Linked DNA regions of Homo sapiens: region 2 is linked to region 1. A link means that fine-mapping ties the variant in region 1 to the expression of a gene that starts in the linked region. Tissue or cell type: whole blood. Region 1 holds a variant in brackets; the other region holds the start of a gene. All regions are shown on one strand. Distances are from middle to middle.

Region 1 (5,000 bases):
AGTTCTTAATCATATCAAAATATTGTTAAGAGCTTTCACTGATATGGAAAATGTTTTATTTTTTAAAAGCTCTCATTTAAAGTAAGTTTTGATTTTGATTATGTTTGCTTTCCAGGCATGCTGAGAATTTAGTAAGGAATCATGGAAAAGATAAAGATTCAAGACGGAAGGTAAGGCAGTCTCCACTGAGAATACATTGATTTTATGGTACATTGAGATTAACCATAATCTTACTTTGGGCTTCCCCTTGAAACCAGAGGCCGAGACAGGGCTCATTTGCAGATGGTTTATTCGAGTGGTGATCCCAGAAGGCACACTGGAGACTCACTTTAGGTTAGAAGATGCAAATTGATTGAAAGTAAAAAGGTGGACAAAGAGAATCTATCAGACAGCAGCTATGAGAGGGCTGGATTGGCTACACTAGTATCAGATAAAACAGATTTTGAGACAGAAAGTGTTACTAGAGAGAGACAATTCAGAATGAGCAAATAATTGGTTCAGCAGAAGGCGATAAAACAATTGTAAATGGATATTTACCTAACAAGAGGGTCCCAAAACACAAGCAGCAAAAACTGACAGAATTGAAGGGAGAAAGAGACAATTAATAATAATAGTAACTTTAGCACCCCACTTTCAGTAACAGGTAGGACAATATTTTATGGTAACAAATTAGGTAATTTAGATGAAAGGACAAATTCCTAGAGACTATCAGTTACTAAAACTGCTGGAAGCAGTAGCCTGAATAGACCTATAGTGAGTCAAGACATTGCGTTTGTGTTACAGATCTCCCCACAAAGTCGCTCAGGCTCTGATGGCTTCTCTGGCAAATTCTACCAAGCACATGTTATTAATAGACACTTGTTACTAACACACAATCATCATCCCTCTCCTTGCATAATTGTTTCCATGTGTTAAGCTACCTTGTGACATGTATTTATGCACAGGGAGAATTGTACCCTGTGCTGAGCTTGTCAATTAGTACATCAGCGTTTCTCCACAGTCTTCATTATCTTCACTGTCTCCATTAGGATCATAAGAGTAGGCTTTGTAATGATTACTTAGTGACTCTAAAATAGCACACTGTGGAGTTAGGGTTATTATCAAACCATTGTCCTTTTTTTTTTTTTTTTTTTTTTTTGAGACAGGTCTCACTCTGTTGCCCAGGCTGGAGTGCAGTGGCACGATCTCGGCTCACTGCAACCTCCGCCTCCCGGGTTCAAGCGATTCTCCTGCCTCAGCCTCCTGAGTAGCTGGGACTATAGGCATGCGCCACCATGCCCGGCTAATTTTTGTATTTATAGTAGAGATGGGGTTTCACCATATTGGCCAGTCTGGTCTGGAACTCCTGACCACATGATCTGCCGACCTCGGCCTCCCAAAGTGCTGGGATTACAGGCGTGAGCCACCGCACCCAGCCTTTTTGTTTTGTTATTACAGATAATGTGGCAAGCATATTTTGGATTCTATGAATTATTTCTGGAGAATAATTTTTTCTTCTTTGATCGTTATCTGAAACCCATGATTCTGAGGTAATCATATTTAACAATTTTGTGCCATACATACATATATATATATATATACGTTGAGATGGAGTCTCACTCTGTTGCCCAGGCTGGAGTGCAGTGGCGTGATCTCAGCTCACCTCAACCTCTGCCTCCTGGGTTCAAGCGATTCGTGCCTCAGCCTCCTGAATAGCTGGGATCACAGGCATGCGCCACCACACCCAGCTAATTTTTGTATTTTTAGTAGAGACAGGGTTTCACCATGTTGGCCAGGCTGATCTTGAACTCCTGACCTTAGGTGATCCACCTGCTTTGGCCTCCCAAAGTGCTGGGATTACAGGCGTGAGCCACTGCGCTTGGCCTTTGTGCAGTATTTTTATGAATTGCTTTATTCTATGTCCGTACACAAACATAATTTTACATAAATTAGGTCATACAGCACCTGTTGTTTTGACGTGGATGTTTTATTTCTTTAATTTTGGTGGTGGTGGTTGGATTGCTTATTATCTGGCTATAGCCACACATTTACCACAGAAAAAAATACCTACAAATATTTCTTCTCATATAATCTTTTATAATCATATATTGGTATGTATATTTAGGAGTTTGGAAGCCAGTTTTAAACATTTACACACACACACACACACACACACACACACCCCTCCTGTTTTTCTTTTTTTTTTTTTTTTTTGACATGGGGTCTCGCTTTGTCACCCAGGCTGGAGCGCAGTGGCGCGATCTTGGCTCACTGCAAGCTCTGCCTCCCGGGTTCACGCCATTCTCCTGCCTCAGCCTCCTGAGTAGCTGGGACTACAGGCGCCTGTCACCACACCTGGCTAATTTTTTGTATTTTTAGTGGAGACAGGGATTCACCATGTTAGCCAGGGTGGTCTCGATCTCCTGACCTCATGATCCACCTGTCTCGGCTTCCCAAAGTGCTGGGATTACAGGTGTGAGCCACCACGTCTGGCCACCCCTCCTGTTTTTCCTAGTTCATAGTGGAAATCCCTCCAGTTTGGACGATATAGATCTACCGCATTTTTTTTGTGGATACATTTCTTGAAGTGGAATTGTGGAAATACTGGATGAAAACGTATAGATTTCTTTTCCTATTTTCTTCATGTTTCCCAATTTTGTCTCTAAGCTCCAGGTTGGCATTGTTAACTAGAATTATAATGTGAGCCACATTTATAATTTTAAATTTTATTTTGTATTTTTATTGAAAAAAATAGGCCAGATGTTCGAGACCAGCCTGGGCAACATAGGAAGTCCTCATCTATATAAAAACAACAACAACAACAAAATTAACAAAAAGGCCAGGCATGGTAGCTCAGGCCTGTAACCCCAACACTTTGGGAGGCCGAGGCAGGGGGATCATCTGAGGTCAGGAGTTTGAGATCAGCCTGACCAACATGGTGAAACTCCCGTCTCTACTCAAAATACAAAAATTAGCCGGGTGTGGTGGTGGCCTCCTGTAATCCCAAGCTACTTGGGAGGCTGAGGCAGGAAAATCGCTTGAACCCGGGAGGTGGAGGTTGCAGTGAGCCGAGATCGTGTCACTGCACTCCAACCTGGGCCACGGAGTGAGACTCCTTCT[C/CA]AAAAAAAAAAAAAAAAAAAAAAAATAGAGGTAGGGTCTTGCTCTGTTGCCCAGGCTGGTCTCGAACTTCTGGGCTCAAGTGATCCTCTTGCCTCAGCCTCCTAAAGTACTGGGATTACAGGTGCGAGCCACCACAACTGGCCTATAATTTTAAGTTTTCTTATAGTCACATTAAAAACATACAGAAGAAACATGAAATTAATTTCATAACATCTTATATAATCCAATAAATCTAAAATAGTATCCGTGCAACCTGTAATCAGTATAAAAATTATCAGTGAGGTAACCAATGGGATATTTTACATTCTTTTTTTTTCTTTTCCAGAGGAGTAAAATATATGATGTGTTTTTTTCTAGAAAAATTTCAGTTGATTGTGAATGTATCTAACAGCTTGTTTTGGCTCTGATTAGATCCTGATTTTACAGCAGCAACACTGAATTTATCTTGGTTCAATTCTTCAGCATTTATGGAGTGCCTGCTATGTGCCAGAATAGTTTTCTGGACACATGGGAAGTTCTTTTTCTATTTTCTTCATGAATAATACTTTATACTGTCACCAGTTTTAGACACTGCCTAGTTTTGGGTAGTGACTTCTTTTTTTTTTTCTTTGAGACTGAGTTTCGCTCTTGTCGCACAGGCTGGAGTGCAACCTCTGCCTCCTGAGTTCAAGAGATTTTCCTGCCTCAGCCTCCCAAGTAACTGGGATTATAGGCACCCGCCACCATGCCTGGCTAATTTTTTTATTTTTAGTAGAGACGGGATTTCACCATGTTGGCTAGGCTGGTCTTGAACTCCTGACCTCAGGTGATCCGCCCGCCTCGGCCTCCCAGAGTGCTAGTATTAGAGGCGTGAACCACTGTGCCCAGCCTGGGTAGTGACTTCTAAGTGCATAGATCTTCCTAGTGTCATTGACAAAGGTGACATTTGCAAGGCTTTTTCTTCATCAGATGCAGGGATCTGGACTTCATGTGTATCCTTTTATCCACTCCTCTCACTGCTACTGTGAAGCAGATGCCATAATTCTGATTTTTCAGAAGGGAAAGCCGAGGCACAGAGGGTTGAAGATACTTGCTCTAAGTCACACAGTTTGTCAGCCACCAGGCTGGGACCTGCATCCCAGAGCGTTAGTTTCGTAGTCTGTGCACCTGTTTGCTGAGGGCTGGCGGGCTCCGCAGTGGTGGGGTGGGGGGGAGCTGCGTGGCGTGTGCCCTGGAGTCCCACCTGTGTCCTGGCTGATGGGGCTGTTCTCTCTCCATTAGCATGGCCACGAGGAAGGCTCTTCTGTGTGGTGGAAGCTGGACCAGAGGCCGGGAGGCGAGGAAACCGTGGTAAGGAGAGTACGTCTTCTTATAGTTTGCAATCCTGTCCCAGCACAGACCCACTCACATTTGCTTGCTTTCCTGTCAGCATTTTGCTAGTGCAATTATTGTCCCTTTCAGACAGCAGAACATGAGCATGAAGGGACAGATGAGATTTTCATATGAAATTCATACTTGCCCTTGTTTGAAGTCCTCGGTCATGTTGAAAGCTGTCTGGGTTGTGGGGGTCAAGGAATGTAACTGGGTTGTGTGCACACCGTCAGGTACTTGAGCCTCTTTCTTCCTGGAAGAGGAGAGGATTTTGCAAAGAAATTGGAGGGAAGAGGTTTAGGGTGAATGAACAGACAGCCTTCCCATTGTTGCTCTGTGTGTAAGTTGAAGAAAGTGAGGAGATTTGAAGACACCTAATAGAGAAATCACAAAAGACACGATCCAGGCCATGGTTGCTGAGAATTACACAAAGTTATAAATAATTTTCAGAATATATATGCAAAACTGGATAGATCAAGGAAATGCAGGTATCCTCATATAAGGGAAGAATTGCGGACGGGGCCTCTGAAGGACGTAGCGCGGAGCTTGAT
Region 2 (5,117 bases), 33 kb before region 1:
ATAATTTAGTGGGTGGGGGGGCGTTGAGAAGTGGGGAGTGCTGATTGGTAGGATTGGAGATGAAATCAGGGAATCCAAGCTGTCTTCTTGCGCTGAGTCAGTTCCTAAGTGGGGGTCACAAGACCAGATGAGCCAGTTTATCCATCTGGGTTGCACCAGCCGACCCATTGAGTGAAGGGACTGAAAAATGTCTCAAGCACCAATCTTAGGTTTTACAATAGTGATATTATCCCTAGGAGTAATTGAGGAGGTTTAGAATCTTGTGGCCTTTAGCTGCATGACTCCTAAACCATAATTTCTAATCTCATGGCTAATTTGTTAGTCCTCCAAAGGCCATCTAGTCCCCAGCAAGAAGAGGGTTTGCATCATTCTCAGCAAACTATCACAAGAACAGAAAACCAAACACCGCATGTTCTCACTCATAAGTGGGAGTTGAACAATGAGAACACATGGACACAGGGAGAGGAACATCACACGTGGGGGTCTGTCGGGGGGGGCTGGGGGATAGCATTAGGAGAAATACCTAATGTAGATGACGGGTTGATGGGTGTCGCAAACCACCGTGGCATGTGTATACCTATGTAACAAACCTGCACGTTCTGCACATGTACCCCAGAACTTAAAGTATAATAATAATAAAAAAAGAGAAGGGGGTTTGTTTTGGGAAAGGGCTGTTATCTTTCTTTCAAAGTTAAACTATTCTACGACCAGGAATGGACAAGGACAGCTTGGAGGTTAGAAGCAAGATGGAGTCAGGTTAGATCTCTTTCACTGTCATAATTTTCTCAGTTCTAATTCTTGCAGAGGTAGTTTCAGACTTAAGTTGCAGATCTAAAGTTACAATTGGCGTGTCTTTGTTTAAGTGAGGACACACATCTTGAAAGGTCTCCAGGCTGGCAAAACATTTACACCTGGGAGACTGGTGGGGGCCAAGGTGCCCGGCCCTGCCTTCACGGGGGCCTGGCTGGCAGGAGCCTTGCAGCCTGCAAAGCAACAGCTGTGCATTTGGAAGAGGGTGTTGGGCGACTCGGCTTGCAACCACCCAAGGGGTTCACCTTGCCCGCTGCCTAGACAGAGCCTATCGAGATGGGGGAATTGCAATAGAGAAAGAGTAATTTACACAGAGCTGGCTGTGCAGGAGACTAGAGTTTTATTATTACTCAAATCCATCTCCTTGAGCATTGAAGCATTCAGGGATCAGAGTTTTCAAGGATAACTTGGGTGGGGGGAAGCCAGTGAGCCAGGAGTGCTGATTGGTCAGAGATGAAATCATAGGGAGTCAAAGCGGTCTTCTTGCCCTTATCAGTTCCTGGGTGAGGGGCCACAAGATCTGATGAGCCAGTTTATTGATCTGGGTGGTGCCAGCTGATCCATCAAGTGCAGGTTCTGCAAAATATCTCAAGCACTGATCTTAGGAGCAGTTTAGGGAGGGTCAGAATATTGTAGCCTCCAGCTGCATATTAGAAACTACTCCTAAAACGTAATTTCTAATCTTGTGGCTAACATCAGTCCTACAAAGGCAATCAAGTCCCCAGGCAAGAAGGCCTGCTTTGGGAAAGGGCTGTTACCGTCTGTGTTTAAATTATAAAATATAAACTAAGTTTCTCCCAAAGTTAGTTCAGCCTACTGCCAGGAAGGAACAAGCACAGCTTGGAGGTCAGAAGCAAGATGCTGTGGGTTAAGTTACACCTCTTTTACTGCCTCAGTCATAATTTTGAAAAGGCGGTTTCAGGCTTTCAGCCCTAACTTTCCCTTTGGCTGAAGGAGTTCGGAGGTCCTGAGAGTTTTTGATTTTCCCTTACGTGTTGTATAAAAACAGTCTCTCAACGTTGATTCCTGCCTACCTTACTGCTTGTTTTTATCAAAAGACGACATATGGGAATATAATTTGTTAAGTGCAAAGCCTTATTCAAATGTAAAGCTCTTTTCTTTTTTTTTTTTTTTTTTTTGAGACAGAGTCTCGCTCTGTCGCCCAGGTTGGAGTGCAGTGGCGTGATCTCCGCTCACTGCAAGCTCCGTCTCCCAGGTTCACGCCATCCTTCTGCCTCAGCCTCCCGAGTAGCTGGGACTACAGGCGCCTGCTACTGCGCCCAGCTATTTTTTTTTTTTGTATTTTTAGTAGAGACGGGGTTTCACCGTGTTAGCCAGGATGGTCTCGATCTCCTGACCTCATGATCCACCCGCCTCCGCCTCCCAAAGTGCTGGGATTACAGGGGTGAGCCACCGCGCTCGGCCTCAAACGTAAAGCTCTTTTCAATATCTGCTCTCCCTTTCTATCTTCCCCGACTGTCAGTCCGGTCCCGTGGGAACCCGGGGCGGGTTGGGGCGAGTCAAGAGCCCCTGCACCCCAAGTCAGGGTACTGCACCTACCCCTTGGGGAGACCAACGACCGCTCGGTCCTCTGCTGCTCCTGCCTGGCGGTTGCTAGGAGCCGGGGAAGCGCAGGCGCATTGGGAGGGGCCGCGGGCACGCCGAGCAGCGACCACTCGGCCTTCCCCTGCTCCTGCCTGCCAGGTGCTAAAAATGCCGGGGATGCGCAGGCGCACTGGGAGAGGCCGCAGGGCACGCTGGGCAGTGCTTCTGGGCCCTCTGCTGCTCCTGCTTGTCGGTTGCTAGGCGCTGGGACGCGCCTCCCGAAGGGTGCGGGGCACAGGTGGCCTCTTCGGGGTGGACCGCGCCTGGCCGGGGCCGAGGACACCGCGGCCGCCCGGGCCTGCGGGAAGCGATGGAGCCCGGGAAGGTCGGTGCGGCGCTGGGTCTGGGCGAGGGGTGGTCGAGCTTCGCGGACTCCTTCGGGCGCCGCTAGCAGCGCCGCCGCCGCCCTCCCTTTGCGCAGCGGTTCTCTCGGCCGGGCCGGGGCTTCCCGGAGGAGCCGCGGTGCCTCCGAGGCAGGAAGGGAAACGGAGGCGCGGCTGGCCGTCGGCGCGAGGGATGGCAGGACGCCGGGCTCCCGGCGGTCGGGAGAGGCGGTCTGTGCAGCCTCAGGCCTGGGGTCGCCGCCGCGGCCCGTCTCCTCGCGCCCGGCCTGGAGGCGGCCTCGGCCCCTGCTGCGGGGCCGGGGTGGCTGAGGAGACATATTTAAAAGTTTATTAAATTTTAGCTGACTTAAGTTTAAATATGACTTGTCACAGTTTAAGAGGTTGAGAGAGTGCAGCCTGGGTGCTTGAGTTTGAATTCAGGATTTTGTATTTACTTGTATGACCTTGGCAAACTCACTTAACATGTCTTGTTTCCTAATTCATTCAATGGGCACAATAATAATAGCAACATTATAGGGTGTTTAAGAAGGTTAAGTGAGATATTATGTGTAAAAGTGCATAGACCAGTGCCTGCTTTCATTAACACTCAATAAATGTTAGATATTACTGTATTATTCTTATCTATTGATTCCCCACTGAAAGATGAGGAATTTAATTTGCATACATTTTCTTCTACCTTCACTCCTATTATTTTTTCCCCATCACTTACCTTTATGTGTTGAATAATACTCCTTAATTTGTATTTTATGTTATATAAACCTTAGGTTTTTGTTTTTTTTTTTTTTTTGAGATGGAGTCTCACTCTGTCACCAGGCTGGAATGCAATGGCACGAACTTGGCTTACTGCAACCTCCGACTCCAGGGTTCAAGAGATTCTCCTGCCTCAGTCTCCCGAGTAGGTGGGATTACAGATGTCCGCCACCAAGCCCAGCTGATTTTTGTATTTTTAGTAGAGATGAGGTTTCACCGTGTTGGCCAGGATGGTCTTGATCTCCTGACTTCGTGAGCCACTGCACCCGGCCTTTTTTTTTTTTTTTTTTTAAAGATAATTCCCCTTGTCGCCCAGGCTGGAGTACAGTGGCACGATCTCTACTCACCGCAACCTCCAACTCCTGGGTTCCAGCGATTCTCCTGCCTCAGCCTCCCGAGTAGCTGGGATTACAGGCAGGTGCCACTATGCCTGGCTAATTTTTGTATTTTTAGTAGGGATGGGGTTTCTCCATGTTGGTCAGGCTGGTCTCGAACTCCTGACCTCCGGTGATCCGCCCGCCTTGGCCTCCCAAAGTGCTGGGATTACAGGCGTGAGCCACCGCGCTAGGCCAACCTTAGATAGTATTTTTTAACTTTCCCCTAGTTAAGATTAAGAAGCTACTGCCCTGCACTCCCCATTTCTCCCTAAACCCACTAATTTCCTGACCCTGTCATCTTCTATGCTATTCTCTTTACATTTCTTTAAGTTACTCTGTAACTTACATTGTCCGTGATTTGTTTATAGGTTGATTTTAAAAATGAAAACCAATAAACACTATAACATCATGGTTATATACGTTTTCATTGCAGAACCAAATAGTCAGATTGGACCAATAGATACAATGGAGTCCTGTATTCTAAGCTCACTCTACTCAGGGAACAATGTTTCTGGTGTCAGGGTCAAAGGGGTCATCTTTTGTTACATTCAGTTAATGTACCACAATGAAGTTTGCTTATCATTTGGACCATGTCTTTCATAAATGGCCCTATTTGCCCTGTTTTTTTAGTTTTGGCAAAAAAGAACATAAGCTGTTTTAAATTTTTAAACCTTATGATGTCTTCTAGCTTATTAGTGTCATATTACCTGTTTAATGAAATTCTCTTAAATTCTTCCCAGAGCTCACTGACTTTATGTTCTCATCAGGACAAATTGTTTTCTAGACATGCACAGAGCTATGATCTGGGAATTCTTTCTCATTGTGCTTCTGGGTTAGGCCTACTGTTTCTTGGATCAAGTGTCTCCCTCTTTTTTGAAATCTCCATGCTTTTTCCAGTGGAGTATCCCCTCCCCCCACTTTCCTCTCCCCTCCCCCCTCCCCTTTCCCCTCCCTTCCTCTCCCCTCCCCTTTCCCCTGCCCTCCCCTTTCCCCTCCCTTCTCCTCCTCTCCCCTCCCCTCTCCCCTCCCCCCTCCCCTTTCCTTTCCTCCCCTCCCCTCCCCTTTCCTCCCCTCCCCTTTCCTCCCCTCCCCCCCTTTCCTTTCCTCTCCTTTCCTTTCTTCAGAGTCTTGCTCTTTCACCCAAGTTGGAGTGCAGTGACACGCTCACAGCTCACTGCAGCCTAAACCTCCCAGGCTCAAGCAACGCTCTTGCCTTGGCTTCCCAAAGTGC

The links. PIP is the estimated chance that this variant, and not a neighbour inherited with it, causes the effect.
Region 2: DYNC2I1 starts here. The variant in region 1 is fine-mapped to the expression of DYNC2I1 in whole blood (INTERVAL, PIP 0.92).

Annotation. Positions count from the first base shown.
Region 1 is chr7:158,886,906-158,891,905 of GRCh38, forward strand. It overlaps DYNC2I1 (dynein 2 intermediate chain 1), which reads left to right. Exons shown (of 25, transcript NM_018051.5): 7 at 116-170; 8 at 4,360-4,428. Among named protein-coding and RNA genes, the nearest start is that of DYNC2I1, 33 kb to the left of the region's middle. The variant C/CA (reference allele first, on the strand shown) is at 3,100.
Region 2 is chr7:158,854,011-158,859,127 of GRCh38, forward strand. DYNC2I1 (dynein 2 intermediate chain 1) reads left to right here and starts at 2,548. Exons shown (of 25, transcript NM_018051.5): 1 at 2,548-2,740. The coding sequence starts at 2,726. It overlaps LOC124901796 (a long non-coding RNA gene), which reads right to left and starts at 2,512. Exons shown (of 2, transcript XR_007060627.1): 1 at 2,371-2,512; 2 at 1,128-1,386. RefSeq lists a silencer at 2,604-3,073 and an enhancer at 3,424-3,965.